Linked DNA regions of Homo sapiens. The protein of the gene in region 4 purifies or fractionates together with the protein of the main gene of each other region. This does not show direct contact. Each region holds a gene or a part of one and is shown on either strand. Other genes may lie near its edges.

Region 1 (7,021 bases), on a different chromosome or scaffold from region 4:
GCCCTGCAAGAATTGGAAGCCAGCAAAGGTTAAAAACAAGTGCATAGATCTTCCCTCTTATTTCACACATGGAATATCTTCATAAAGGTAGAGCGAGACTCCGCTCAAAAAAAAAAAAAAAAAAAGATTACCTACATTGACAACTTGTCTAACATAACAAGATGAATAAAAGCCATTTTAATGAACTTCCTCTCTTATCACGACCTCATTAATTATATTCTAGAGGTAAGGTTGATTTTTTTTTAAAGCACATTATTCATTACCAAATAGTCTAAAACTAATACCTATTTACATAGGTTACTGTTAATGAATAGCTACTTGAAAATTATACTTAAAAGTTCAAGTTATAAGATTAACTTCAAAAAACCTACATATATAAACACATATATGATACTCCAATCATGAAAAAGAAAATATAAACTCATACAATTTTACACACATACACACACACACACGATATACATAATACATGTACACAGAAAATCCTGGAAGGCAAGGCATTGTAATAGTCATCTCTGGGTTATACAAATGATTTTTAATTTTCTTTTCTATATTGCTCAATTTCTTTAAAGTGATCTCACAAAATTAGAATATAAATATGAAAAAATAAACTAGAAGAGTATAATTATACACTGAATGAGAATGATATAAAAATCATTACTTTAAAAAAAGTATAGCTGCATGAGATCACAGAAATACACATGTGGCTTTCACAACACTCATCTTTTGAAATAAAATTATTTCCATGATGCTAATACTGTTCCAAACATTTAAAGAACACCTACTTTATGTTAAGAACAAAAACAAAAGAAAACAAAAACCTGTTTCCAGAGCTTGTGGCATGAGTATCCTGGATGTTGATATAATTGTTTCAAACTCTGATAGGAATTTGATTTTTGATAATAGCCCACAATCATTCAGAGCCAGATCTGATAAATATCACAGATAATACAATTTCAATTAGAAACAATAACGAAGTTGCTAACTGTAAAGTCAAAAAGACAAACTGAAGACAAACAACAAAGGTCTTACTATACAAAGACCAACAACCAACTAAAAATGGGCAAAGCCAGGTGCGGTAGCTCACGCCTGTAATCCCAGCACTTTGGAAAGCTGAGGCTGGTGGATCACGAGGTCAGGAGATCGAGACCATCCTGGCTAACAGGGTGAAACCCCATCTCTACTACTAATACAAAACATTAGCTGGGCATGGTGGTGGGCGCCTGTAGTCCCAGCTACTCAGGAGGCTGAGGCAGGAGAATGGCGTGAACCTGGGAGGCGGAGCTTGCAGTGAGCCCAGATCGCGCCACGGCACTCCAGCCTGGGCGACAGAGCAAGACTCTGTCTCAAAAAAAAAAAAAAAAAAAGAACATGAAGAGTCAGATCACACTAAAACAGAAGTACAAATGTCTTTAAATGTATGAAATAATGCTTTATGAACTAATTAAGGACAATAATTAAAACAATGAAATGCCATTTATCCTATGGGTGATGGTGAAAACCTCTGACAATAGACTAATTTATCAAAGGTTTAGGGAAAAGCAGGCACGCTTTTATGTTGATGAGAATGTAAAGTGGTTCAACTTCTTTGAAGAGCAATTGACAACACCTATACAAATTTAAAATGCAGGTATGAGCTGATCCAGTGATTCTAGTTCTAGGGATTTATCTTGCAGACGTGTTTCCATGTAAGTACAAAGACTTACATATGAATATATTCACTGGGGTACTAATTGTAATTTTAAAAACTCTAGAAACTACCAAAATGCCCAACAGTGGGGACTGGTTAAATAAATTATGGTATAGGCACACGATGAAATATTACAGTCACTAAGAAAAGTGAGGTAGACAGATGTATGTATATTGAAATAAAATGACCCATAATATGAATTAAGTGAAGGAGACAAAATATAGAACAACGTGCCTAGTACAAAATCACTGGTTTCAGTTCTCTTAACTCGGACACACATAAGCATAACCAAGCATAAAATATTTCTAGGTGAATACAACAGAAGGTGGTACAGAATTGAATGTAAGTGAGAAACAGACAAATCCACAAGTATAGTTGGAAATTTTAACATGTTTCTCTCAGCAACTGATAGAACTAGAAAATAATAAGTCAGTAAAAACACTGATGGTATGAACACTGTCAACTACTTTGATCTAATTGACAAATATAGAATACCCCACCAAACAACTCTACAATATATTATTTTCAAAATACTTAGACCATATGTTAGGCCATAAAACAGGTCTCAGTAAATTTAAAAGGAACAAAAGAATATAGAATATATCCAGAAACCCCCAATATTTGGAAATTAATAATTCCAAATAATCCATGGATCAAATCCATGGGTAACGTTAGCTTATCACCCCTTTAGAAGTAACTCTTCGAGATTTAAAAAGATATGTACTTAGTGTTAAATTACCTGACATAAACAAACTGTAGAACTAAAACAATATAATTTTATTATTTTAAAATGTTATACTCTTAATACCTTTGTGAATTTTCTATTAACATTCTAGTTTTTACTCATTTTAATGTAAGGTATTCAAATTAGAATGTCACGCAAAAAAATTTACTTAATATTGAATTATGAATTATAATTATGAATTATATTTATATTTATAACATAATAATATAATGTTATATAATATATAACATTATAATTCATATTATAATTATGAATTATGAAATATATATGAATATTGAATTATGAATTATAAAAAATATGAGAATTCCATATTTCACTTTATTATAGGAACGTTAGCTGCCTTCTGAATTCTTCTAATTTCTAGCCCAACAGAAGACAATAGTCAAGTACACAATCACACAGCATTAATTTTAACTTGTTTGATTTAGTATTTCAAACAAGTTGAAGTATTCCCCAGATGCTAGTAGTTCTCACTGGATGTTTTCAAAGGATAAAGTAGTTGATTACTACATAATTTTAGTTCATCAATAAATTAGAAATTTGTTATCCATCAAATATATAAAGTATAACTCAAAAATTAAAATTGTATTCACTACATATATTCTAGTTACAGTACACCATAGCAACAGCATGAAAAATTATTTAATAACTAAAAACATATAAACACTATTTTTGAAGCAACAAATCCCCCAGAAAAAACTTTTGTACCTATGAATTTCATTAGGAAAATTGTTACTGCATTTCTAAAGAGCTATAAAATTTAACAACTAAAAATTTCCATAACCACACTGCAAATTTATTCTTAAAAAAAAGATACATTTTAATTTCTTTTATGGTTTTGGTCATAAGGAAAACTACTATCAAGTTTCTGAAGTGCAATCTGGCATCATTTACCCAGAGACTAAAATATGTACATACTGTATCCAGGCAGTAATTCCCATATTTAATTAACATGACTGGACAAATTCACCAAAAAAGCTAGTAAATATCAGGTTTTCAAAGAATATCTAATAAAAGTAGAGAACTATCACAATACAATGTTAAATTAAAAAAGGAGAAAAGAATGCATGTGACATGATTTCCATTTTGTGTAGATAAAATATGAAAATACATGTAGATGCAAAGAAAAATATAATAAAACAATAATTTTCTGCTTGGTAATTTTCTGAATTTTTCCAAATTTTCTATAATAGACATGAATTCATCTTACTATCAAAAATAATTAGAATATGTAGTTTTATTATACTTACATTAGCCACCTTTTCAACATAAGTCTTCATTGTTTTCACAATCACTTTCCTGTCCTTAAAAAGGAAAGATTGTCTCACTGAATTTTCAGTTATGTATTAAGGGTATTTTGTAGTTAAACATTTTAATATAATATTTATTAAGTTTTCATTTGAGTGGCATATGTTTTCATTAGTAAAAATAATAGTTATACAGCCAGAACAAAAAAACTGTAATATACCAAAGAAGTTGGCTTAGAGCTATTACAAGCTTAGATGTGTATGTGATAGGGTTAGGGTTAGGGTTAGGGTTAGGGTTAGGGTTTGCAAGCCACCTTTCACAGTGAGACCAGACAGATCCTTCTTCCAAGGTCTAAACTGTCCTCAAATGCAGAGTCTAGCAAACAGTTAGTACTCATCTGCATTTGTTGAATAAAATTAAATTTGCATTAAAAAAAGTAGATATAGTACAACTATCTTTTAAAGGCAGAATTATGCTGACCAAGGAAATAATGATAATTTCTGTTAAACTTCTGTGATTAATAAGGATCTTTACCTTTTCCCTCAAGTACATAACACCTATGGGAGCAAATGTGTGTGGCCAGCTGTTTGTTATCTCTTCCCATTTTCCCCTGCCACAGTATGATCATTAAAAGAGGAGGTACCAAAACCTCTATAAACTAAAGCTTAAATACATATTATGTTTACTTGCTTGATAGATCTCTTCCCATCCTTTAATGAAACTTCAAGGTTTCTACTAAAGCAGAGGAAAGAAGAAACACTAGGCCTAAAGAAGATGGCTCATTCCCATCAGGCTCTAAGGCACAACTTTTGGAAGATAATGCACAACAGGGCAAAGACCAAAGGGGGTTAAAAGTCTAAGGACAGCTAAGTCAAGCCTGCAGATAAAGCATGGCCCTGACTTGTACAGTTTAAATGCCCAAGTGCTGTCACACTTACCTTGGGCGTGCCATGCCACAGGCAGTGCATGGCCACTCTGGCGCCATCGTGTGTGTGTGCCAGGTAGACCACCGCTTCGCGGATGGCTTCAATCATTTCCTAGGGAACAAATGCTGTCAGGAACAGGGCTCTGCTTTATTTTCTTCTTTCTACTGTTTTATCTGTCTGTCTACAGGGGGCAGTTATGCAGAGAGAAGGAAAGGAAGAGAGTGCCAGGTAGCAAACAATTTCATTTTGTAGACAATCAAACAGAAACACGAGCTCTTTCTAGAAATGTTCTTTTCCATCAAGAGCAGTAAATACTGCTGGCAGACAATATCTATTAAAAACAATACCTGACTTTTACCAATGTCTGTTAAAAAAAAGGTCAAGCTATATGTGTAATATAATATATTCTAAATAATTTTCCAAGAAAAAGAAGCCTAGGAGGTGGTGGTGATAAGAAGGGAGCTTTTAACAGAATAGCGAGACAAAGAAAATGCTCTTCCCCAAAAGAGACCTGTATGCAATAAACAGAATCAAAACACTCATTTTGACTGAAAAGCTTCCCTTTTCAGTTCATAACTGGATTATCTCCAAAAATCACATTCTTTACCATAAACACGCTTACATAACATTTCCTCATGAAAAATTTCTATACTAACATTTAGACTAAGACCTCACCTATAAAATGACCCTTTAGTAAAAAACATTTAATTTCTCACTAGGTAGCTTAGCTTAATTTAACCTTTAGCCTTCATTTTCCATGTATATAATTTCTTATTTACATTTTCTTTTTTTTTTGGAGACGGAGTCTTGCTCTGTCACCCAGGCTGGAGTGCAGTGGTGCCATCTTGGCTTACTGCAACCTCCACCTCCCAGGTTCAAGCAATTCTCCTGCCTCAGCCTCCCGAGTAGCTGGGGCTACAGGTGCCCGCCACCACCCCCGGCTAATTTTTGTATTTTAGTAGAGACTGGGTTTCACCATATTGGCCAGGCTGGTCTCGAACTACTGACCTTGTGATCTGCCCGCCTCGGGTTCCCAAAGTGCTGGGATTACAGGTGTGAGCCACCGTGCCTGGCCCTATATTTTCAAAGTCTAAGGCATGTAGGATGTAAATGAGTTCTGGCAACTAACAAGTGCAGAGCTCCATTTTAGTCTATTCCCAATTTAAAAATGTACATTAAATAAATACAAAGCCTCATGCCACGAAAGAGAGGGTAGGTGCCTAATTTCATCAATAAGGAACAAACAATTTCAGCCTCAAGTATCTAACAATCCCTTCCCAAGATGACTCTCAAGAGCAGTTTCAACTAACATATCTGAACTTAGGAATCTCTTCAGAGCTATCCAGATGGAAAGCCATGCATATATTCCAATTATGCTTCCATTTTCCCCGAAGGTTTTTTTTTTTTTAAGTCTCTTTTGAAAATGCCCCCAATACCAGAAAAGACAATTTGTCTCATTACTTTACACGCATGCTAAGTTCCAAATGATTTTTTGCTGTTACTGAAACATTCAACACTAAAAAGATACTTTCTACCACTGAATATATTCAAATAATCATTGTGTCATTTCTGAGCATATAGTCCTGCCTCAGAACCGTGGGATACTGTATTTTTCAGGAAGTAAGAAAAATCTCCAAAACAGAAGGTGCTGCTATGGTCATCAAACCATAAGCTTACGTGGGTGGCTACCATCAGGAAATTATTTTGCATGCCAATTTTAAGAGGGTCAAAACTCCAATGAATGTATAGTCTGGCGTTATTTGTTAAGTCAGTCTCATTATTTTCATTATCCCTTGTGATTGGAAAATGAGGACAAATGGACAATGAGCTCACTGTATGATGAGGCAAGCAAAGTTCAGGGAACTAAATGATGAATTCTCATTTGTATTCCCATGACTGACTTGAAGGGCAGTGCAATTTACCTTCACTCTGTTCTTCTATGATATAAAGTCCAGGTTTTCATCGTCCACTTAGTTTTACAAACATATCCTCCTCTAACCTTTTAATGCCAAGCTAATTTTTTTTTTGTATTAGCACAGTTGAATTTAAAACTATCCGAATGCTTGAATATTCCTCCACGAGTTAGTTAATTTTCAGATTAGGTTAGCCAGCGGATACTCTCTGGATTATAATTAAGATATAAAAATTTAATATGATTAGTAAAACTAGGGTCAATTCTATTGTTTACTGGAATAAAACCTAAATGGAATTAGCAAACGTGTTCAAAGGGAGTTGAGTAAATTATCTTCCCTAAATAAGGAAGCAACTCTAAAATTTCCACAAGACAACGTACATCAAAGCAGTTTTTCAAATTTCTACACCGCTCCTCCTCCATGTTTTAGTTTAAAAACAAAAACCAAGAACTTACTGATCTGAGTTTGGGGGGTGCATAGGTAAAAAAGTCCAAGAATA
Region 2 (7,021 bases), on a different chromosome or scaffold from region 4:
CAACCTCCCGCCTCCCAGGTTCAAGCAATTCTCTGCCTCAGCCTCCTGAGTAGCTGAGATTAAAGGTGCCTGCCACCATGCCCAGCTAATTTTTTGTATTTTTAGTAGAGATAGGGGTTTCAACATCTTGGTCAGGAGAATGAGACCATCCTGGCTAACACAGTGGAACCCCGTCTTTACTAAAAATACAAAAAATTAGCCAGGCATGGTGGCAGGCGCCTGCAGTCCCAGCTACTCAGGAGGGTGAGGCAGGAGAATGGAGTGAACCCGGGAGACGAAGCTTGCAGTGAGCCGAGATCGTGCCACTGTACTCCAGCTTGGGTGACAGAGCGAAACTCCGTCTCAAAAAAAAAAAAAAAAAAAATCATACAGGCAGCTGGTTGTGGTGGTTCATGCCTGTCATCCCAGCACTTTGGGAGGCTGAGGTGGACGGATCACCTGAGGTCAGCAGTTCAAGCCCAGCCTGGCCAACATGGTGAAACCTCATCTCTACTAAAAATACAAAAATCAGTTGTGTATGGTGGTGTGTGCCTGTAATCCCAGCTACTCAAGAGGCTGAGGCATGAGAATCGCTTGAACTTGGGAGGCAGAGGTTGCGGTGAGCCGAGATCGCGACACTGCACTCCAGCCTGGGCGAAAGAGCAAAACTCTGTCTCCAAAAAAAACAAAAAAACAAAAAACAAAAAAACAAAAAAAACCCAATACAGGGCAGGGCATGTTCTTTGATCATAGAGCAGTAAGTTAAAAATCAATAATCATTAGATATCTAGGAAAACCCAAACACTAGATAAACTTTTAAGTAATTCATGGATCAAAGAAGAAATCAGAAAACAAATTAACACGGATTAGTGGACATTTAAAGATTTATATACTCATGTTATAAAGAAAGCAGGATTAAAATAAATGATTTAAGATTCCACTTTAAAGGGTTTGAAAAAGAACAAAGAGGCCAGACACAGTGGCTCACACCTGTAATCCCAGCACTTTGAGAGGCTGAGGCAGGTGGCTCTCCTGAGGTCAGGAGTTGGAGAACAGCCTAGCCAACATGGCAAAACCCCATCTCTACTAAAAATACAAAAATTAGCAGGGCGGGTTGGGGCACGCCTGTAATCCCAGGCTACTTGGGAGGCTACTTGGGAGGCAGAGGCACAAAAATCTATTGAACCCAGGAGGCAGAGGCTGCAGTGAGCTGAGATCACACCACTGCACTCCAGCCTGGGCGACAGAGTGAGACTCTGTCTCAAAAAAAAGAAAAAGAACAAAGAAAAGCTAAACTAAGTAGAGGGAAGGAAACGATAAAAGAAAAAGAAACTTGGCCAGGTGTAGTGGCTCACACCTGTAATCCCAGCACTTTGGGAGGCCGAGGCGGGCAGATCACGAGGTCAGGAGATCGAGACCATCCTGGCTAACATGGTGAAACCCTGTCTCTACTAAAAAAAAAAAAAAAAAAAAAAAAAAAAAAAAAATTAGCCGGGCGTGGTGGCAAGAGCCTGAGGCGACAGAGCAAGACTCTGTCTCAAAATAAAAGAAAAAGAAAAAGAAAAAGAAACTGAATGGCTGGGCGTGGTAGCTCATGCCTGTAATCCCAGCACTCTGGGAGGCAGAGGCGGGTGGATCACCTGAGGTCAGGAGTTCGAGACCAGCCTGAACAACAAGGAGAAACCCCATCTCTGCTAAAAATACAAAAATTAGCTAGGCATGGTGGTGGGCACCTATAATCCCAACTACTCAGGAGGCTGAGGCAGGAGAATTGCTTGAAACCAGGAGGCGGAGGTTGCATTGAGCTGAGATCGCACCAGTGCACTCTAGCCTGGGTGACAGAGTGAGACTCCGTTAAAAAAAAAAAAAAAAGAAAGAAAAAGAAACTGAAGGGCCTTGGGGCTTGGGCCACATCTACCCTACCTCATTTGCTGCAGCTGCCATGGGAGTCGGATGGTTGACCGCATCACCCAGCGCAATGGCTAAGCGGAGATCCTTCTGAATGTATTTCAGGTAGAAATCAGGCTTAAAGTTTCCTTGCAGGATATCTGAGGAGAAAAAGCCAGTATCAGACAAAAGCCAAGGACCTGAAACTAAAAACTACTTACGGTCCACCAGGTGTCAGTACCTAAAACATACTCAGGGCTCAGTTCCACATAGCCTAGGCCTCTTGGCTCCTCACTCACCCTTAGACACCTGAGGGCTGCAGCTCCCAGCCTATATCCCCAAATCCCGCCCACTGTGTTTCTGAACCTCCTCTGGCCAGGGTCAGGGACTGACTGGGGAGGGGCATCTTTCACGCTCACTAAATCCCTGACCTAGTACCCTGCTCTAATCAAACACCAAATGCAAGAAGAGGGGCCAAAAACAACTCACTTTGGCACTTCTGGTCCAGGAAGATGCTGGCCAACTGTCCCTGATTGAGGATGTCCAAGAGTGTCTGCTGGGACTGGCCTGTCACCTGGGCCAGGGTCAGCCCCTCGGCAATAGTGGCCATGAAGCTCCCTTGGACCATGTTCACGATCAGCATCATCTTGGCTGCATTGCCCACTTCACCTGCCCAGGGTAAAGACTCACGGTCACAGCCCAAGAATGCCACAGACAGGGCTTCTCTGTCCACCCTCACCTCTGCTCAGACCCACCTCTCTCCAGGGGAGGCCCCCTTCACCTGCCCCCGACAGACTGGCTCTTCCTCCTTCCACGCACTGACTATGCAGGTGAAAGGAAACCTTCCCCAGGGTCCCCGGCAGAAAGGCCGTGTGGGACTGACGCTGTCATCAGTGTGAAACAGAGGAGATGTGGCCCCAGGCTCCAGGCCTGACAGGTGCAGGCGTGTTACCTAGGAAGAAGGAGGTCTTCCCCATCGCCTGGAAGCAGCTGCTGCAGTCCTCATATAAGCCCCTGTCTCCAGCCGCTAAGATCACCAACATCCCGTCATTAGACAGCTGCTGATTCCCTGAGACGGGGGCTTCCAGAAAGCGCCCCCCCCTGGACACAATCACCTGGAAAGAAAAGTCACAGCTTCTGGAGGCCTCCCCTCTCCCAGCGCTCTCTGGGCAGGACTCAAGGAGTGTTGCTGAGTGGCCACGGCTGCTCATCACCTTCCAGAGCTGGAGGGGACGGCCACCCATACCAAGGTCCTTTAGCTGACACCTAAACTCAGGAGCTAACCATGTGCAGGTCACACAGGCCGAATCACAGCAGTGATGAGACGCTGGGGTCTCCACACAGGAACCCAACTGACTTGGAATTTTTTTTTTTTTTTTGAGGTGGAGTCTCGCTGTCGCCCAGGCTGGAGTGCAGTGGAGCGATCTCGGATCACTGCAAGCTCCGCCTCGCGGGTTCATGCCATTCTCCTGCCTCAGCCTCCCGAGTAACTGGGACTACAGGCGTCCACCACCACGCCTGGCTAATTTTTTGTATTTTTAGTAGAGACAGGTTTCACCATATTAGCCAGGATTGTCTTGATCTCCTGACCTTGTGATCCGCCCGCCTCGGCCTCCCAAAGTGCTTGGATTACAGGAGTGAGCCACCACGCCTGGCCGGAATTTTTTTGTTTTGTTTTTTTGAGACAGAGTCTTGCTCTGTTGCCCAGGCTGGAGTGCAGTGGCGCAATCTCAGCTCACTGCAAACTCTGCCTCCCGGGTTCATGCCATTCTCCTGCATCAGCCTCCTCAGTAGCTGGGACTACAGGCAACCGCCACCATGCCTGGCTAATTTTTTTTTTTTTTTTTGAGACGGAGTCTTGCTCTGTTGCCCAGGCTGGAGTGCAGTGGCACGATCACAGCTCACTGCAAGCTCCGCCTCCTGGGTTCATGCCGCTCTCCTGCCTCAGCCTCCCAAGTAGCTGGGACTACAGGTGCCCGCCACCGCGTCCGGCTAATTTTTTTGTATTTTTAGTAGAGATGGGGTTTCACCGTGTTAGCCAGGATGGTCTCGATCTCCTGACCTCGTGATCCGCCCACCTCGGCCTCCCAAAGTGCTGGGATTACAGGCGTGAGCCACCGCGCCCGGACTGGAATTTCTTAGAGACCAACAACTAGAACCAGATGTGACCATGTCAATGGCTCGGCTGAACACACACCTCCCCTGTGGATGCTGCCCTCCCCTCAGAACATATGTGGGTCCCAAAGTCCCCACTCCCTTATTTGGGCCAGATGCTCGGGGAGGAGGGATGCTTTGCCAGTGTCAAATGCAGACAGCTGCTCAAACCCCAATGCCAGGCGGGCGGCCTGGGTTGCTTCTCATCATAAGGCTGGCAGCTCCAGGACTTGATGCCCATCCCAGCCATGCAGCGACTGCCCATGGCTGTTCAGACTAGCTGCGGTTTGAAGGTGGAGCACGGGATAGGCTAGTCCCAAGGCTACTCGCCTCTCCTCTTCCCTCTCTGGCTTTGGCTCTAGAGTAACTTAACTGCCCACTCTTGTAAGCCTGGGTCTTGGGCTCTGATAGAAAAGATGCTGGAGAGCCAGCCCAAGGAAGGCTGCTACCTGGGCCAGCTCAGTGACGGTGTCAGCGTCCACTGTTGACATGTCCACGTAGCACTTCCCAGGGCGGATCCCTTGCAGCACACCACTGGGGCCCAGCACCAGCTGTGGGGACACAAGGGAGAAGCAATAGCCCAGGCTCCCGGGCAGATGCTCAGGAGCCCTACAGACCTCAGATCAGAATCCTGCTGCTGTTTTGGCTCATTTCCTGATTTCTATCAGCTGAAAAGGGAAGAACAATGAAATAAGCAAGGGATAGAAAAGTACTTCCCGCATGCTCCCATTTATCTTTAAAAAGAATCTATGTGAGTGTGTGCATTTCTTTTTATTTAAAAAAAAAAAAAAACAAACCCCATTTAAAAGAATAAACCTCAGCATTTACTTTGGGGACTTCTTTGGATTTACTTGGATTAGGCTAGTCACCAGTTTAATAAGATGACTACCACACTTGAACTTCTAAAATATACAAATACAGTGACAGCTAAACATAGAAGCTTGGCACCTGGACCAAAGGCACATTCAGTTCCAAAGCTTCTAGTTCAACAAGAACACATGAAGCCTGTTCAAGACACATTTCAGCACAGACTTCAAGGGCCCTAGTAGTGTTCATTCTTTGATCTGAATTAAAGGAAGTCTGTATTCAATTAATGCAAACACCCTTCACAATGGGAGATGGCCCCTGATGGGAAATTCAGCCCCCCACATGTGGACACTCACTTGGTGTGCAGGGGAGGAGGGGAAGAGGCCAGCCAGCAATCCTGGCTGTGACCCGGAGTTGCTGAGGGGAGGGAGGGGGTCCTTACGTCCTTGGCCGCCTTGGGATCCGACACGCAGGCGAAAGTGATGTCGCAGGTTGAGACGACTTCAGCGGGGGTTCTTCCCAGACGGGCCCCCTCCTGGATGAACAAATCACACTGCAAAAGTCACAGATCCTAACGTGAGCTGCAGGCAGTGCACAACAAACATGCCAGCCAGGCCAGAGAATTGCTGACCAGGCCTCCTGGCGGCCTACCAAGGCAGGAGGCTGAGGCCGGGAGCCTGGGTCATGGAGATAGGAGCCCAACTTTTGGGGAAGTGCACGGGGCCTTTTACTGGCCATCTTCAGTTTTTGCATGACGAGTGCCTAGGATGATGAACTGCTTCACAAGTGTCTGCTGAAGGTATGCTGTTTCAAGAATGGGGTATGAACAGTAGCACCTCTCCCCAGCCCCCGCTGTGCTGTCCTGGCTGTGGCCCTGAGCTATCAACACTCTGCTGGGAATGTGGGGATGTCGCTGGAAGCCTTCCACCTGGTGGCCATTCGTTTTTGGGTTGTTTCTCAACACTGTTGTCAGGTTAATAAGACTTCTGGAAGTGCCTAAAAACACTACCATTTTGGCTTTTTTTTTTTGAGACAAGGTTTTGCTCTGTCACCCAGGCTGGAGCACAGTGGTGCAATCATGGCTCACTGCAGCCTCAACCTCCTGGACTCAAGTGATCCTCCTGCCTCAGCCTCCTGAATAGCTGGGACTATAGGTGCATGCCCCATGTGTGATTTTTTTTTTTTTCTGTAGAGACAGGGTTTCACCATGTTGCCCAGGCTGGATGGGCCTACTATTTTCTATCAGACTTTTAATGTTGTTTATGATTCACATTTATCTATATTGTTGTCTTTCATAATTCTGGCATAATTATGGTTTATAGTGGTTGACTATGGAAAACTTCACTGAGAGATATACTGTGATTTACCTAATGGCTGACCTGTAGTTTGACACTTAGCCCACTTTCAATTGTAAAATCACATCACCAAACATCTTTACGTACAAAACTTCTCTATGTTTTAAATTCAGGTCTCCACAAATAGAATAAAACAGGTTCTAAAAGTTTTAAGGCTCTCAACAAATGTAGACAGATGACTTCCCAATGAGACTATGTCACTTCATAAAGATCACCAGCAAGCTCTCCTATTATGCCAGTACCAAGTATGTAATTTAAAAACTACAAATAAGTGCCCATAAATACATGTAAAATTCTTCCTACCTGATCATTTAACCAGTCAAAAAAGGCAACTGTTTCATTTTTTTTTTTTGAGACAGAGTCTCGCTGTCGCCCAGGATGGAGTGCAGTGGCACGATCTCAGCTCACTGCAAGCTCTGCCTCCCAGGTTCACGCCATTCTCCTGCCTCAGCCTCCCGAGTAGCTGGGACTACAGGCGCCCGCCACTGTGCCCGGCTAATTTTTCGTATTTTTAGTAGAGACGGGGTTTCACCGAGGTCTCGATCTCCTGACCTCGTTATCCCCCAGTCTCTGCCTTCCAAAGTGCTGGGATTATAGGCATGAGCCACCGCACCCGGCCTTGTTTGATATATTTTAATTACTCCTGATTACCGAATATTTTTTATGCCTTTGTTTCCTCTTTTGTGAGCCATTTTTTTGTCCTTTTTCTTTTCTGAGACAGGGTCTTGCTGCTGCCTAGGTGGGAATGCAGTGGTATGATCACAGCTCACTGCAGCCTCTACCTCCTGGGCCCAAGAGATCTTCTGGCCTCAGCCTCCCAAGTAGCTGGGACTATAGTA
Region 3 (8,004 bases), on a different chromosome or scaffold from region 4:
TTGAATACCAACTGGACAATAGATGATATTAAAATTGTAATTTTTTTTACAAAAATGTGATCATTGTACTGTATTATGTTAATAAAACATAGTTCTTATGTTTTAGAGATACTAAAGTACTTAGTAATCAAATGGTTGCTGAGATTTGCTTTAAAATAACACATTGGAGTTGGGGACACATGGGGAATAGGGAGAATAAATGAAACAAAACTGGCCATATTTTCAAAACTGTTGAAATGATGGGTACAAGGGGCTTCATCATTTTTTTCTCTCTACTTTTGAGTATGTTGAAAATATCCATAGTAAGAAATAAAAAAATAAAAAGCATATGTATTTCATACTAAAAATCAACACTAGTTGGTGAAGAATTTGTCATAATAGAAAAGATAAGAACAGAAAAAACATAACAAAGCCTTCCAACCATGTTATTTGGTGTAGTGCTAGAACATGCTAGAATGTTCCTTCCTTTTCTATCCTCCACCCTCTGCTCTCTTCTCCTTCTCAGAGATTTCTTCAGTGACCAGCAATGACTTAGATGATTTCCTCGATACCCATAACTCCCAGCAACTCAGAAACAACCTTCAAATTGTTGCCCCACAACATATTAAAGAAAATTTTAAATAAAGGAACACATTCAAGCACTTTTTAAAAACGTTAGAGTGAGCTGAAAGGGTTTTTGCTCTAAAGAAATTTTTAAAAAAATACATTGCGTCCTCTACCTCATCCATCTAAAACACTTACCTTTGTGTGTTTTATTACACGTATATTGGGGGTGAGTGACTGGAGTTTTTGTTAGGTGCGTGATCAAAAGTTTGCCGACTGGTCGGACTTGGTGGCTTATGCCTGTAATCCCAGCACTTTGGGAGGCTGAGACAAGTGGATCACCTGAGGTCAGGAGTTCGAGACCAGCCTGGCCAACATGGTGAAACCCTGTCTCTACTAAAAATACAAAAATTGGCCGGGTGCGATGGTGCATGCCTGTAATCCCAGCTACTCGGGAGGCTGAGGCAGGAGAATCGCTTGAACCTGGGAGGTGGAGGTTGCAGTGAACCGAGGTGGAGCCACTGCACTCCAGCCTAAAAAGTTTGCTGACAACCATTTTAAACCCTGGGACACAAGTCAAAGTGTTTAAGAATGGGCCAAGTGTAAAAAGTACTGTATCGAGAAAAGTAATTGAGCAGAGCACATAGTGACAGAAAGGGTGGGAGGAAAGACTGGCCATTCATTAATTCAACAAGGCGTTCATTCAGTTCATTCAGAAATTAGATGGGAAGGCAGAATCCGCCAAGAAGGGAAAGAGACTTCACAAAAAGGACTTGGTGATGACAGATTGTGAGGAGGATTAAAACCCTGCCTGGGGGAAAAGATGAGTTTGACTCCATGGACAGGACACACGCGGGAGAGGAAGGGCTTGGGATCAAGGGAAAGGCCTGGGCAGCGAATGTGGACCTGGAAGCCATCTTTTTAGATGTGCAGCTGTCCTCGAGGGAGCAAGCTCTCTTAGGGAGAAACTGGGAAGAAAATCACTCAAGAGTCTTAACCCAAACCTTGCAGCGCATCTGCATTTAGACGAAAAAAAAAAAAGGCAAACGGAAACAACAGAAGCAGTGGCCCGAGACGTGAGCCACACTGCTTCAAAGGGATTTAAGAGAGTTGTCCCAAGGCAGGCGGTCAACTGCGCGCGCCACCGTAGAGAGACCACCCGGAGGGAAGGCCCGCGGCTGCTACAACTTCAGGAACCTGGAAAAGGGCCACCCCTGCTACGCGCCAGGCATCAGAAAAGCGGTGATGAGGGGCATGGGGGTGACCGGGAAGGGAGGGACAAGCAGAGAGACCTGCGGCTCGCTCCGGCGGAGACGGACCGGGGGCCCAGGGCGGCTGGGTTACTGGCTCCGCCACGTCTAGGGAAGGAGGTAGTAGGGAGGGAAAGACTCAAGATACCAAAGACGGGAGGCTCTTTCCTTCCTTCCCAAACCTGCCTACCGCTTCTCTAGGCCCTGGCTGGCTCCAGAGCACTTTATTCTTCTGATTCGTGCGGGCGGGCGGGGAAAGGGGTGGAGGTTGAGCCTGGTCTCCTCCAGGCACTAGCATTTTAGCCATTCTCGAGAAAATGTCTGGAGGTGCCGGAAGGAAGGGAACTGCAAAGGTAGAAGCGCGGGCCCTGCAGAGGCTCCCAGAGGGGAGCAGAGAAGGGAGTGGCTGGAGGCGGAGGCTGTCAGGTGCGGGGTCCCGGCGAAGCCGTGCCCCTCCCAGAACATTGCCCGCCTGGACAGTCCACCCCGACCACGGCTGCGGACAGCGCCCCTCCCTCCGGGTGCACTCACCGCTCGGACTGCGAATAGTTGCACCGGCCCAGCAAGTTGAGTTTGCAGAGATGCAGGTTATCGCAGGGTCTCTGGCAGTACTTGCGACGGCAGACCCGGGCTCGAGTGGTGGCCACCACCGATCGGGTGATCCCGGCCTCGCCGCCGGTCTCCAACACCACAAAGCGGTCGGGCCCGGCCACCTGCAGCACCTCACAGAGCTGCGGCTCAGACAGCGCGATCTCCTGGAGCAGCGCGTCCAGGGCCATGCGGCCCCCGTGGGCGCACAGGATTTTGGTGATGAAGCAGCACACCTCCGGGTCCGCCATGGCGCGCTGGCTGTGCTGGCTCTGCCGCGGCGCGGGACTCGGTTCCGCGGAAATCGGAAATCGAAACTTACAAGTGTCCAGGGGCGGGCGCGGGCGGTGCTACTGCTGGGCGCGCCCGGAGTCAGCGAGGGCGCGCTCTCCGTCGCCGTTAGCCCAGCCCAGCGATCCACTCTCGGCTCTCAGGTCAAGAGGCTAGATCTCACCGACCGGGTCCTAGTGGCAGGTTTACAGCCGGCCGCAAGGGCAACTGGGTGGAAAGAAAGAGAACGCGCGGGCAAATCTGCTGGTGACCGCCTGGGGTGGCCCCCTCTCGGTTCTAGGCTCGGCGAGGGTGAGGTTCTCCAGCCGGGCTCCGCGAGCCTTCTTTAGAAAGAAGAGAAACTAAAAGCGATCTTGGGGCTCTGGCCGGTGTTTTATAAGCCAGCCGACTGAGGCGTGTGACGCAAGTCCTGAGAGCCCTGTTGAGGAGTGCGCACCCCACCCATTCCCGGAAAGAGCAGACCCTAGCGAGCGCTTCCTGCGAGCCGTGCGCTCTGCCTCTGTTGGTAGTGAATCTTCCCAGCAACTCCACATGGTAGATATTATTATCCTCACCCTGAACTTGAGGAAGTAACTTGCACGAACACGCACTGGCATCAAGCGGAGCCCAGATGCCACCGAGTTTCCCCAAATCGCGTCCCCAGGCCCCAGATCGTGGTACCCCAGGCCCCGATGTGCAAGTTTCTCCTCCACCACCGTGCCCTCTTAAAGAACAACGATTGCCACTCTCCCTCGTTTCTGCCTTCTCACGAACTTTTGGACAAACCACTTCTTGACATGGTCTTGCTTACCTAGAATCGCTAACTCGGTGCCCTGAACCACTGCTTGTACCTCAATCACGGTGGACATGCTAAGACATATCCCAAGATTTCAGATCGGTTCCTCCCCGTAGAGATTGGGACAAGAACTTTTCCACCGTGGGGACGTACTTTGACCCCCAGAGTTGACATAAAGATTGTTTTTAAGTGAAAACATTGAGCTACAGAAGATGTAGAAAGAAATCTTAATGAAACTTCCCTTATCTGACTAAAGCAAAACCTCCCGAAAACATGGTGCCATTAAAAGCCTCTCGGAGTATTCAGCTGCCAGGAAGACAGACTGTCCCATTACCATTAGCACCAAAAAACCCAATGGGCTGGGTGCTGTGGCTCAGCCCGTAATCCCAGCGCTTTAGGAAGCCGAGGCAGTGGGAGGATTGCTTGAACCCAGGAGTTCAAGACTAGCCTGGGCAACATAGTGAGCTCTCTTCAATAATAATAATAATAATAATAATAATAATAATAATAATAATAATAAAAACAACCCGGGCATGGTGGTGTGCAGCCGCAGTCCCAGCTACTCGGGAGCCTGAGGTGGGAGGATTGCTTGAGCACGGGAGGAGGCTGCAACGAGCCGGGATTGTGCCACTGCACTCCAGCCTGGGGGATAGCGCTGAGACTTTGTCTCAAAAACACAAAACAACCCAATCAAAACTTCCAAACTCTCCTACTGAAGCCCTAAAACTTTCCTTTTTGTTAAGTTGAGGTATATAAACCTTTACTTTTGAGTTTTCTGTTACTGGAAGCTCCTGCATGCATGTGTAAATAAACTTTGTCTTTTCTCCTATTTATCTGTCTAGTGCCAGTTAATTTTTAGGCCCCCAAAGACAGGACACAAGTTGAAGAGAAAAAAGGTTTTTTTTTCCAACATCTTCAAATAAAATAGATGGGTCATTTGATCAGATAAGAAATACATCTTTTTAAAAAATAATAGATTCTGGTTGCTAACTTAGAAATTCTTCAAAATGATTAATGAGAATTCTCCTCAGTTTTGTCATTCATGGTATATAAACCCTCTTTCAGGAATAGAGTACTTTGTTATGAAAACCAGCCAAACATGGGGGCCACATAGGATCATCTTAGGATGTCTAAGAGGGACATCTTGTTCCCTCTAGTTGCTGCTTCTATAGTTGTCTTTTAATCCACTTGGCCTTATTTGTGGTCTGACAGGTTCCCAGGGACCTTTTATTATCAAATCAACTAAGTTCTAGATGTTTATTGACTATCTTCTATGTGGTATTTACATTAGTTAGTAATGTAAGGACATGCAGAAGTTTAAAAAACAGTCCCTGCACTCAAGGAGCATGTATGCGAAGACATGAAAAAATGCATGGAAATATAAGCAAATTCATGGGTAAATGCCACAATGGGAATATAGAAGATGAGAGACTGAAGAGTCTAGTTTGGCTACAGTGGTTGGGAGTACAGACATAGAATCTCCTCCAATTTGAAGCCATGAAAAATGATTTAAGGGCCAGGTGCAGTGGCTTGTGCCTGTAATCCCAACACTTTGGGAGGCCAAGGCGGGAGGATCATGACCATCCTGGGCAACATACTGTGAGATCCACCTGGGCAACATAGCGAGACCTCATCTCCACTAAAAATAAAAATTAGCCAGACATAGTGGTATGTGCCTGTAGTCCCAACTACTTGGGAGGCTGCGGCGGGAGGATTTCTTGAGCCCGGGAGTTCAAGGTTGCAGTGAGCTACAATTGTGCCACTGCACTCCAGCAAAGGCAACAGAGGAAGATCCTTTTGGAAAGGGAAGAGAGGGAAAGGGAAAGGGAAACGGAAATGGAAAGTGACAGAGAAAGGGAAAGGGAAAGTGAAAATGAAAGAGAAAGGGAAATGGAAAGGGAAAGGGAGGGAAAGGAAAGAAAGGAAGGGAAAGGAAAGGAAGAGAAAGGAAAGGAAGGAAGGGAAAGGAAAGAAGGGAAAGGAAAGGGGAAAAGGAAGGAAAAGGAAAAAAAGGAAGGAAAAGGAAAAGGGGAAAAAAGAAGGGAAAGTGAAAGGAAAAAAGAAAGGGAAAGTGAAAGAGAAAGGTGATTTAAGGAGTTCTGGGAAGGGAAAAGGAGACATTTTGAAAAATTTTGAAATATGTGCCATCAGAGATTGGGTTCTCCAGGAAGGAGATCCTGACATGGAGTTAAGAGTGCAGAACTTTCTCTGCACTTTTTCTGGGGCATAATGCCAGAAAAAGTCAAAGGAAAAAGCATGATTGATCCATGGGGCCTATCAGACTTTTGTGCGGACCTAACAAAGTCTCTGCCAGCCCAATGAGGAGCTCTGGAGTAGGAGTCCAGCTTTGGACAGAAAAGGCTAGGCCCTTGTACTGCCTTGCTCAGTCACCGGTGGGGGCCACCAGAGAAGTGGATGACTTCAGCTCGAATGCTGGGGCAGATCTTGAAAGAGCTAAAGCTGGAGGATATTGGCTAAACATGCTCCTCAAAGCTGGGCTGCAAGCTTGACCTGAGTGCCACCCTGTGTCAGCTGTAGTCCACCCTTTGTACTACATGGCTTTCTTTATCCATTTGTATTTAGGGAACAGGCTTTTCAGGGTCACTCTTCCTACAAGGAAGCTTACCAGAGAGAAATTAGTGGAATGAACTATAGTCCTTGTCACTGCAGTTGGTCTCAAGGCCACAGCTGGTGGTCTGGTCCTCATCATATCCCTCTACCACTATCCATTCCAATCCCTCTCACCCTTGGCCACCACCTCAGCTGCTCTCAGTAGCTTAATCTGGTCGGGTGCCCTATTTGAAAGTGGTCTGAGCACATCTCAGTCCCAGCTGGGCAAAGGATTACCAAGAGACACCAAAATAGGTCACCAGAATTCCATACATATTCCACCTGCCCACATTGTGTAACAACAGCCACACCTCCTGCTGACCAGCAACAGTTACCTCGAATAAGATGGCCATTCCCTTTCTTACTTGCTAGTCTCTGACCATTAGGAGGCCAAAGTACCTGGTGACAGCCATCACAGTAGTCCAGTGGGATCTCTGTGGTATCTCCAGGCAAGAGTGTGCCCCTTTGGGGAACCAAGACCTATAACTCTGCAGAGCCCAGCATTGCTGGGAGAGGAAATTGCAGGGGGTCATTGGAATTATACTAAGTAGGGCCACTCAGGCTTACCCATTCTTTCCAGACTCATGTATGGACACAGTACCATACTAACTTGACCGATTCAAGGCATATACCACGATGTTCTGGAGTCTGTGTCATCATTGTAGGGTATCAGCTCCATTCTGGTGCTTGACTCCATCTTTAACTAGCCATTCCAATACTTCATCCTATAGCTACTGGGTGGTGAAGTGTATGATAGGACCATGGATAGTACCATGTTCATGGGTTCATTCCCTCCACTTTCTGTGCCATGAAAAGATTCACCTGATAAGATGCTATGTTAAGTGTGATTCCATGTCTGTGGATCGGGCAATCTTTAAGTCTCCAGAAAGTGGTGCTACTGGCCGGGCACGGTGGTTCAAGCCTGTAATCTCATCACTTTGGGAGGCTGAGGCAGGGGGATCACTTGAGGTCAGGAGTTCCAGACCAGCCTGACCATCATGGTGAAACCCTGTGTCTACTAATAATACAAAATTAGCCGGGTGTGGTAGCACACGCCTGTAATCCCAGCTATTTGGGAGGCTGAGGCAGGATAATCGCTTGAACCCAGAAGGCAGAGGTTGCAGTGAGCTGAGATCGCACTATTGCACTCCAGCCTGGGCAACAAGAGTGAAATTCCATCTAAAAAAAAAAAAAAAGAGTGCTACTACTGAGGCTCTGCAGGGAGGAAGGGCAACCCCAAATCCAGAATAACTGCCTCTTCTTGTGAGAACCACCGATGGTTCTGCCAGGACAAAAGGGGCCCGATGCAGTCTACTGGTCCCCAAGTAGTCTATTGGTCTCCTTAAGGAATAGAGCTTAGCATTGGTCTTTATGGCTGGCAGATCAGACACTCAGAGGTGGCAGTAGCTGTGTTTATTTTGGCAAATGATAATCTATGCTGTTAGGTTCTTGCATCGCTTCCATCTCCTGGCCACCATGGCCTCTTTGAGCAGCAGTGGGGGAGGGGGCCTGTCACTAAGCCTGGCCAACATTAACTGGCCAAGTTATTTTGTGTAGTTGGCACATCTTTTGTGGGTCTTAATGTGATATGAACTGCCCACTTCCATACATCTATTCATATGCTTCCTTTTACTTTTAGGCTCCCAAACTCCCAGCCAGGCCACCATCACTGCCCATGAGACCATGTATGTTCTAACCCTAGGCCATACTCCTTCCATACGAAGTGATGACTAGGTACACTCTCAAAGCTCCTCCCGCTGGGGAGATTTTCCCTTACCACTGTTTTTCAAGGACTTCCCTGAGTGAGACTGTAATATAGCTGCCATGCATTTTCAGCTTGTACCCACATATTAAGCTAGCCCATCCTTAACGCAAACTTGGTCTTTTTCCCTCCTCCTTTAGCTGGTTATATGGGACCCCCTCACATGACCACAGGTGAGGCTGGGG
Region 4 (7,021 bases):
GAACCCCCGGCCTGGTTCTCACTTGAGCCGCCCCAGCCTTCGGGGCTTGTCAGCCTCAGCCTCCCGCCGCGCCTGCCGCCGCCTCTGCCGCCGCGCCAGCTCCGCCAGCCTCAGGGCCACCTGGGCCTTGATCCCGCGCAGCCGGAACAGCTCCTGGTGCCGGAGCCGGGCGGCCCGCAACGCGGCCTGCTGTACCCGCTGTGGAGACGGGGGAGGGTCAGGGCTCAGGCCGGTGCTGCCCACACAGGGAGACCTTCTCTCTACACAGGGAGCCTTCCCTGCACAAACCTGCCTGTCCCCGGAGGCCCTTCCTAACCCCGTCACATCAGCGGCCCCTCCAGTGCCTTCCCAGCAGCTGTTTGCTGAAGCCCCTTTTGTCATCCATCTCCCCTGGTCTGCGGTGCAGAAACCTCCCCCCACCCCGCCCCTCAAACAGAAGCGCCAGGGACCCTGTCCCACCCCAGCCCGAGCCCTGCCTGGAAGAGGCTGGGAAATGAGTCTCAGCTGTGAGGATCCCAAACAGCCCAAACCACAGGCCACATGCGGGGCTTGGGGTGTGCAGGCTGCCCGCAGCACCCAGGGCAGCCCATGGTGGGAGGAAGGAAGGAAGGGGGCGAGGCATCAGAGGCAGGCCCCGCTGGCCCAGGCGCTCACCAGCCTGTGCACAGCCTTCTCCCGCCGCCGCTGCTGCTCCGTCTTCTTCTCTGTGGTGGCCAGGCGGGCGGGCGTGGGACAGACCTCGGCATCCCCAGCCTCCGGCCCCTCGCCCTGGCCTGGCTCCCCCTCACCATCCGACTCCTCCAGCAGCCCCTCGCACAGCTCCTGGAATGTGGACTCCTGGGGAGGCGGGGTGCAGTGTCAGGGGTGGGTAGGAGGCCCGGGGAGGGGAGGGAGTGGGCAGGTGCGGGGCTCACCTGGGTGGCGGCCTGCTCCGTGGCGGGCAGGGCCAGCTGCCGCTCCAGCTTCTCCGCCTCCTTCTGCCGCTGCAACTCCACCTCGTGGGCCGCTGAGAGCAGGGTCTGAGGGGCGGGAGTGAGGATGGGTCCCTGAACCCCTCCTGGGACACTGAGACTAGACCCTCTTACCTCCCATCTGTCCCTCATCCAGTGCCCGTGGATCCCGCCCCGGCCCAGGCTTTCCTCCCCACACCCCGTCTACCAGCACACCCACCCTGCACAGAGCCAGAGGGCACCTCAAACCCTCGCCCTCACACCTGCTCTGCACGTCTGTGAAGGCAGTCTGACCTGCACGCTTCACATTTTTTTTTTGAGATAGAGTTTCTGTCTTGTTGCCCAGACTGGAGTGCAATGGTGTGATCTCAGCTCACCACAACCCCCGCCTCCTGGGTTCAAGCGATTCTCCTGCCTCAGCCTCCCGAGTAGCTACTATTACAGGCATGTGCCACCATACCCGGCTAATTCTGTAACTTTAGTAGAGATGGGGTTTCTCCATGTTGGTCAGGCTGGTCTTGAACTCCTGACCTCAGGTGGTCCACCTACCTCGGCCTCCCAAAGTGCTGGGATTACAGGTGTGAGCCACCATGCCCGGCCCACAGTTTCATCTATGTGAATTGGTCAGGGTGGGCTGGTCCCTGAGACAGGAAGCCTGGCAGCCCAAGACCACACGAGACAGGGAATTGCGGGGGTGATGGCTGACATGTGTGAGGTTTCCTTTACGGACAGTGAAAATGTTCTAAAATTGACTGCGGGGATGGTTACACAATGGTCACTAAAAGCCACTGAATCACATACTCTAACTAGGCTGACCGTATGGTTAAGTGAATTTTATCTCTACGAAGTAGTTCTGTACAAATCTAAAAGTGAATGTCTGATCTCCACGCCCCCTCCCACATCTGGTCCAGGAACAGATGGCAGTGAGCGGCACCCTCACGCTTTCAACCATGAGCACACTGTTGCTTTTTTCCGCAGACACTTTTCTCTACCAGATGAGGAAGCTGCCTCTGTTCCTGGCTAGCTATCTCCTTCTTATGAATGCTGAAAACGATTCGGACAAGCGGTCCTGCATCTACCGCAAACATCTCAGCATCTCTCCAGTCACGTGACCCCATGAGAAGGGCTGTTCCTTGAGGGAGGGTTGTGCTTGTTTTTTGAGTCTCGCTCTGTTACACAGGCTGCAGTGCCGTGGTGCGATCATAGCTCACTGCAGCCTGGACCTCCTGGGCTCAAGCAATCCTCCCACCTCAGCCTCCCAAGCAGTTGGGACCACAGATGCGTGCTGCCATGCCCTGCTAATTTTCTGTATTTAGTAGAGACAGGGTTTCACCATGTTGGTCAGGCTGGTCTCCAACTCCTGACCTCCAATGATCTGCCCGCCTCAGCCTCCCAAAGTGCTGGGATTACAGGTGTGAGGCACCGCACCCGGCCAAGGGAGGGGTTTTTGTCCCCTTTGTCCACAGCATCTGTGCTCAACAGATGCCCGCTAAATGCACAGTGGCTCCAGCTAGACTTTCCCATCGCTGAGCTAGCCTCGCCCATATATAACTGTCACTTGGCTGCCAGTGTGCCACCGTGTCACCACAGCCTTTTTCATCTCTGCCCCACAGGCTTCCTGGAAGGCGCCACGGTCTCTCTCAACTCTGTGCCTTTGCAGTGCTGTTCCCACCACCTGGAAAACCCACTCCCCTCCTCCCACTGCAAACCCCTCCCTCAGCCTCTGCCTCGGCTCAGGCGACCCCTCCTCCCGGGAGCCCTTCCTGACCCCCCAGGCTGGGCCAGGTGCCCCGTCTGGGCTCCCAGCCCCAACCACTCTGCCCATCACTGTCTGGGAACAGGTCTCTTGCACTGGACCGTGAGCCCCGTTGCGGACAGGCCCAGGGCTGTCTGGGTCATTGGAGTTCCCAGCACAGGGAGGAAGCTAGTGAAGGCCTGACCAAGAGGCAGAGCCCACTGAGGAGGGAGGCCTGGACGGGGCAGTGTACCTGGTGGTCTTCAAAGGATGGATTGTAGGAAGCTCCGGCAGGCGCCACCTCCACGGCGGGTGCCTGGGACGGCTTGGTGTGCAGGCGTGCTGGCCGCTGTGGAGAAAAGGCCGAGGCAGGGTAAGGCCGTGCGTTGGGGCTGCGGGTGACCCAGGACACAGCCATGGGGCAGATGCTCCAGGCCTTGCCAGTGGTTGGGTGTGGGAAGAGCTCAAGGGGCATTCAGGTGACTCCAGAGCAAGACTCCATCTCAGAAAAAGGATAGCAGCCTATCCTCTGCTACCCACGAGGCTGAGCCCCGGAGATTGTAAGCACCTGGGCTCTAACACTTGGGGTCCAGCAGCTCAAGAAGGAGGCTGCAAATCCAAACTCAAACCCGTGACACTTCTGCCACTTGCCAGCACGGGCTCCACCTTCTCATGTGCTACCTCTTTACATTCTCCCCACCGACCCATGATCTAAGTACAATTTCATCTGTATTTTATTTTATTTTTTTTTTTGAGACAGAGTTTCGCTCTTGTTGCCCAGGCTGGAGTGCAGTGGCATGATCTCGGCTCACTGCCACCTCCACCTCCCTGGTCCAAGCGATTCTCCTGCCTCAGCCTCCCTAATAGCTGGGACTACAGGCACGTGCCACCAAGCCCAGCTAATTTTTTTTTTGTATTTTTAGTAGAGACAGGGTTTCACCACGTTGGTCAGGCTGGTCTCAAACTCCCGACCTCAGGTGATCCACCTGTCTCGGCCTCCCGAAGTGCTGGGATTACAGGCGTGAGCCACCATGCCCGGCCCTCATCTGCATTTTAGAGGAAGATATAGGTTGCAGAAAGGTGAGACCACCTTCCCAGGATCAGTCAGCACTGGAGCTGGGACAGGAATCCCAGCCACCTGGCTCCAGCACAGAGTTCTCGGCCACTGGGATGGAAGGGCTCTGAGACAGACTCTACTGCAGGAACACAGAGCAGCTCCCGGCCCTCCTCACCCTCCCATCACCCAGGATGCCCTTCCCACACATCTCACCTTCACTCCTTTCTTCTTGGTCTGCTCCAGGAAAAACTCATCCTGGCCAACCAACGGCCTGTCCAGGGGGTCTGTGGATACAGCGAGGGGAGCTGCTGGGACAGTCCCAGCATGGAAGAGGCACCAAAGGCTCCCCCCCAATCCCTCCACATTTCAAAAAGGTGACCCTGAAGCTCAGGCAAGGGAAGGACTGATTCTAGACCCCAAGGGCCTTGATCACCAGGACAAAACTGTGTCTGGACGGGTTCAGAAAGTGGAAGAGACCAAAGCTGAAGGCTTCCTTTCCTGAAGCCTCACAACTCAGGAAAGGAAAAGCACGAGTGGGAAACGGCCGCCCCTTCAGGACGCACGACTCTGCTGGGAGGTCACCAAAGCACCCACAAAGCACTCCCTTTCACACTGTACTCTCGTGCAGTGCACAACACACACAAACTGCACATGGCCGTCCTGTCCCCATTCATAGGTGACAGCAGGATCACTCACTGTCTGAGGCCCAGAGGTCGTAGAAGGGCCGCTCTACGGTGTCCTGGGGCCCGGGCTTGGCCCTTGTTGCAGAAGGGTTGAGGAGCCGGGCCTGGGCCCTGCGCACCTCCCGGGGCAGCTCGCCCTGCTTGGCCAGCTTCTCCCATAGCTGCTCCTTCCGCCTGAGCTTCTTGGCGTTGGGGACCTGGTGGGCGAGGACGCTGGTCGGGGAGAGGGGGCACAAGTGCAGCAGGTGAGGTGGCAGCCTGAACGGCAGCAGGGCCTCCTCCCCGTCGGGCTTCCTCCACCATTAAGGCAGCTTCAGCACCCCCTCTCCAAAAGGTGGCACTCCGCCCCCTCTTCAGAGAACTCCTCTCCCCACGTCTGTCTCCAGCCTAGGCCTCCCCTCTGAGCCCCAGACTCAACGAAGCAACAGCCCCGTCCTGGACATACCCCAGGCACCTCACACCACCACGTCAAAACCAACCTCAGCATCACCCGAAATCCCACTCCTCCACATCCCCATCTCAGGGGAAGGCCAGCTGTCCACCCTCTCACCCGCTCATGCCCCAAGACCCACCTGATGTGCCTCCTGAACACGCCTCCCACTCAGCCCCTCCTCTCCAACCCCGAAGCCCCCAGCTGGGTCCAGGCCCCTCCTCACCTGCCTCGGCCCAGCACCAGGGCACCCAGACTCCCTCCCTCTAATCTGCACTCCGAAGCCCAAACCTGAGCCTGCCCTACCCTTCAAATGACCCTCACCTACCAGCCCCCAGCCCCGGAAACCCTTTAGGACCAGAGTCTGGTGGGAAAGAAGGGCCCAGGGATGCTGGGACACTCACTCTTTGGGGGCAGGGACTTTGGATGTGTTCTCGAGGATGAGGTCAACCCGAAGGGGTTTCTTGAGAAGCAGTGACTTCTTCTGGACTTTGGTTCTCTTCTTTGTCAGCCCTAAGAATGGGAAAGAGAACAAGTCAAGGCCTCAGCCCTACCCACTGCCAAAGACCACCCACCCTATTCACCTCCATGGGAGCCATCAGACCTGAATCCCAAGTCACCCCAGGAGACTTGGAGGTCCCCAGGCTCCTACCTGGAGGTAGAGGCCCCTAAGGATGGGGCCCAAGGTGCCCAAGCTCTGACCCTCCACAACCAAGTGCTGGGCCAGCAGGAGGCAGGCCCCATGCTGGGGACACGAAGAGTCACGCCCACAGCCACATAGGAGGGTCTTCCAGACAAACAGGGAACCTCTTCCCTGCATGGTGGCTCACGCCTGTAATCCCAGCACTCTGGGAGGCTGAGGTGGGAGGATCGCTTGAGCCCAGGAGTTTGATGCCAGCCTGAGCAACATAGTGAGATCTCATCTCAGGGGGAAAAAAAAAAGGAAGAAAGCAAGTCATCAGTTGACACTGAAGCCCAGGGAGGGCCACAGAAGTGGACTTGGGACCCAGGATGGCCACTTCTCAGCATAACTTCTAGTTCTCTGGTTTTTACTGTCTTTTTCCTCCCACAAAGATACCTGTGGTTTTTACTTCAAAAGCCTAACAGTTAAAAGCAGTAACTCTACAGCAAAACACTCTAGAATGGAATAACACCCTTGCATGGACTGTGGGACCTCACACAAGAGGCTTAGCTCCTCCGTGCCCCCAAAATGAGGATGTGGATACCTCCCTCACTAGGCCGTTATGAAGATGTAATCATTTAAGGCCCACAAAGCACAGGGGCTGACCTGGTTGACTGCTCACAACCACTATGATCTTTGTCCGTGTTTCCTTACTAAAGTGGAACCCATAAACTGCCTCTTTCCTGCCCCCCAAAGAGGCTTCCCACTCGCCAAAGCACGCCGGTAACTACTTTCCCATCTGTTCATTACGGGCAGGTCACTGACTTACCCTTTACACTCACACACCAGATCAACTCACTTCGGTCAAGGCTGACTTCTCTAATAACCCCCCACTTTTTTTTTTTTTTGAGACAGAGTCTTGTAACCCAGGCTGGAGCGGAGTGCAATGATGCGCTCTTGGCTCACTGCAACCTCTGCCTCCCAGGTTCAAGCAACAATCCTGCCTCAGCCTCCTGAGTAGCTGGAATTACAGGCATGCGCCACCACGCTCGGCTAATTTTGTACTCTTAGTAAAGACGGGGTTTCTCCATGTTGGTCAGGCTGGTCTCAAACTCCCGACCTCAGGTGATCCACCCGCATCAGCCTCCCAAAGTGCTGGGATTACAGGCGTGAGCCACCACGCCCAGCTTGAGACAGAGTCTTGCTCTGTCGCCCAGGCTGGAGTGCAGTGGTATGATCTTGGCTCACTGCAACCTCTGCCTCCCGGGTTCAAGCGCTTCTCAGTAGCTGGGATTACATGCGTGTACCATGACGTCCGGCTAGTTTTTGTATTTTTAGTAGAGACGGGGTTTCGCCATGCTGCCCAGGCTGGTCTCCAACCCCTGACCTCAAGTGATCCGCCCCACCTCGGCCTCCCAAAGCGCTGGGCTTACAGGTGTAGGCCACTGCACCCAGACTCTAATAACCACTTTTTACCTGCCTATTGGAAGTCTCCTGTACCTCAGGGCAGCTCCTTCCACTCTATCTGGTCACTGAACCAGGTC

The links.
Region 1: the proteins of NOP53 (region 4) and PUM3 purify together in Homo sapiens (affinity purification with mass spectrometry; 3 studies listed by BioGRID and IntAct, with this or other methods). This does not show direct contact.
Region 2: the proteins of NOP53 (region 4) and GLYR1 purify together in Homo sapiens (affinity purification with mass spectrometry; 2 studies listed by BioGRID and IntAct, with this or other methods). This does not show direct contact.
Region 3: the proteins of NOP53 (region 4) and ZC3HAV1 purify together in Homo sapiens (affinity purification with mass spectrometry; 2 studies listed by BioGRID and IntAct, with this or other methods). This does not show direct contact.

Annotation. Positions count from the first base shown.
Region 1 is NC_000009.12:2,820,096-2,827,116, forward strand, and holds part of PUM3 (pumilio homolog 3), read right to left. Parts: coding exon 6,978-7,021; intron 4,721-6,977; coding exon 4,622-4,720; intron 3,740-4,621; coding exon 3,686-3,739; intron 4-3,685; coding exon 1-3. UniProt on the Homo sapiens protein: Inhibits the poly(ADP-ribosyl)ation activity of PARP1 and the degradation of PARP1 by CASP3 following genotoxic stress. Binds to double-stranded RNA or DNA without sequence specificity. Involved in development of the eye and of primordial germ cells.
Region 2 is NC_000016.10:4,809,268-4,816,288, forward strand, and holds part of GLYR1 (cytokine-like nuclear factor N-PAC), read right to left. Parts: intron 5,381-7,021; coding exon 5,270-5,380; intron 4,689-5,269; exon of another isoform or gene 4,572-4,688; coding exon 4,470-4,571; intron 2,982-4,469; coding exon 2,819-2,981; intron 2,536-2,818; coding exon 2,356-2,535; intron 2,028-2,355; coding exon 1,903-2,027; intron 1-1,902. UniProt on the Homo sapiens protein: Cytokine-like nuclear factor with chromatin gene reader activity involved in chromatin modification and regulation of gene expression. Acts as a nucleosome-destabilizing factor that is recruited to genes during transcriptional activation.
Region 3 is NC_000007.14:139,106,700-139,114,703, forward strand, and holds the start of ZC3HAV1 (zinc finger CCCH-type antiviral protein 1), read right to left. Parts: upstream 3,022-8,004; 5' UTR 2,633-3,021; coding exon 2,325-2,632; intron 1-2,324.
Region 4 is NC_000019.10:47,748,525-47,755,545, reverse strand, and holds part of NOP53 (ribosome biogenesis protein NOP53), read right to left. Parts: intron 5,369-7,021; coding exon 5,260-5,368; intron 4,639-5,259; coding exon 4,439-4,638; intron 4,027-4,438; coding exon 3,956-4,026; intron 3,035-3,955; coding exon 2,939-3,034; intron 1,020-2,938; coding exon 915-1,019; intron 838-914; coding exon 655-837; intron 199-654; coding exon 23-198; intron 1-22. UniProt on the Homo sapiens protein: Nucleolar protein which is involved in the integration of the 5S RNP into the ribosomal large subunit during ribosome biogenesis. In ribosome biogenesis, may also play a role in rRNA transcription.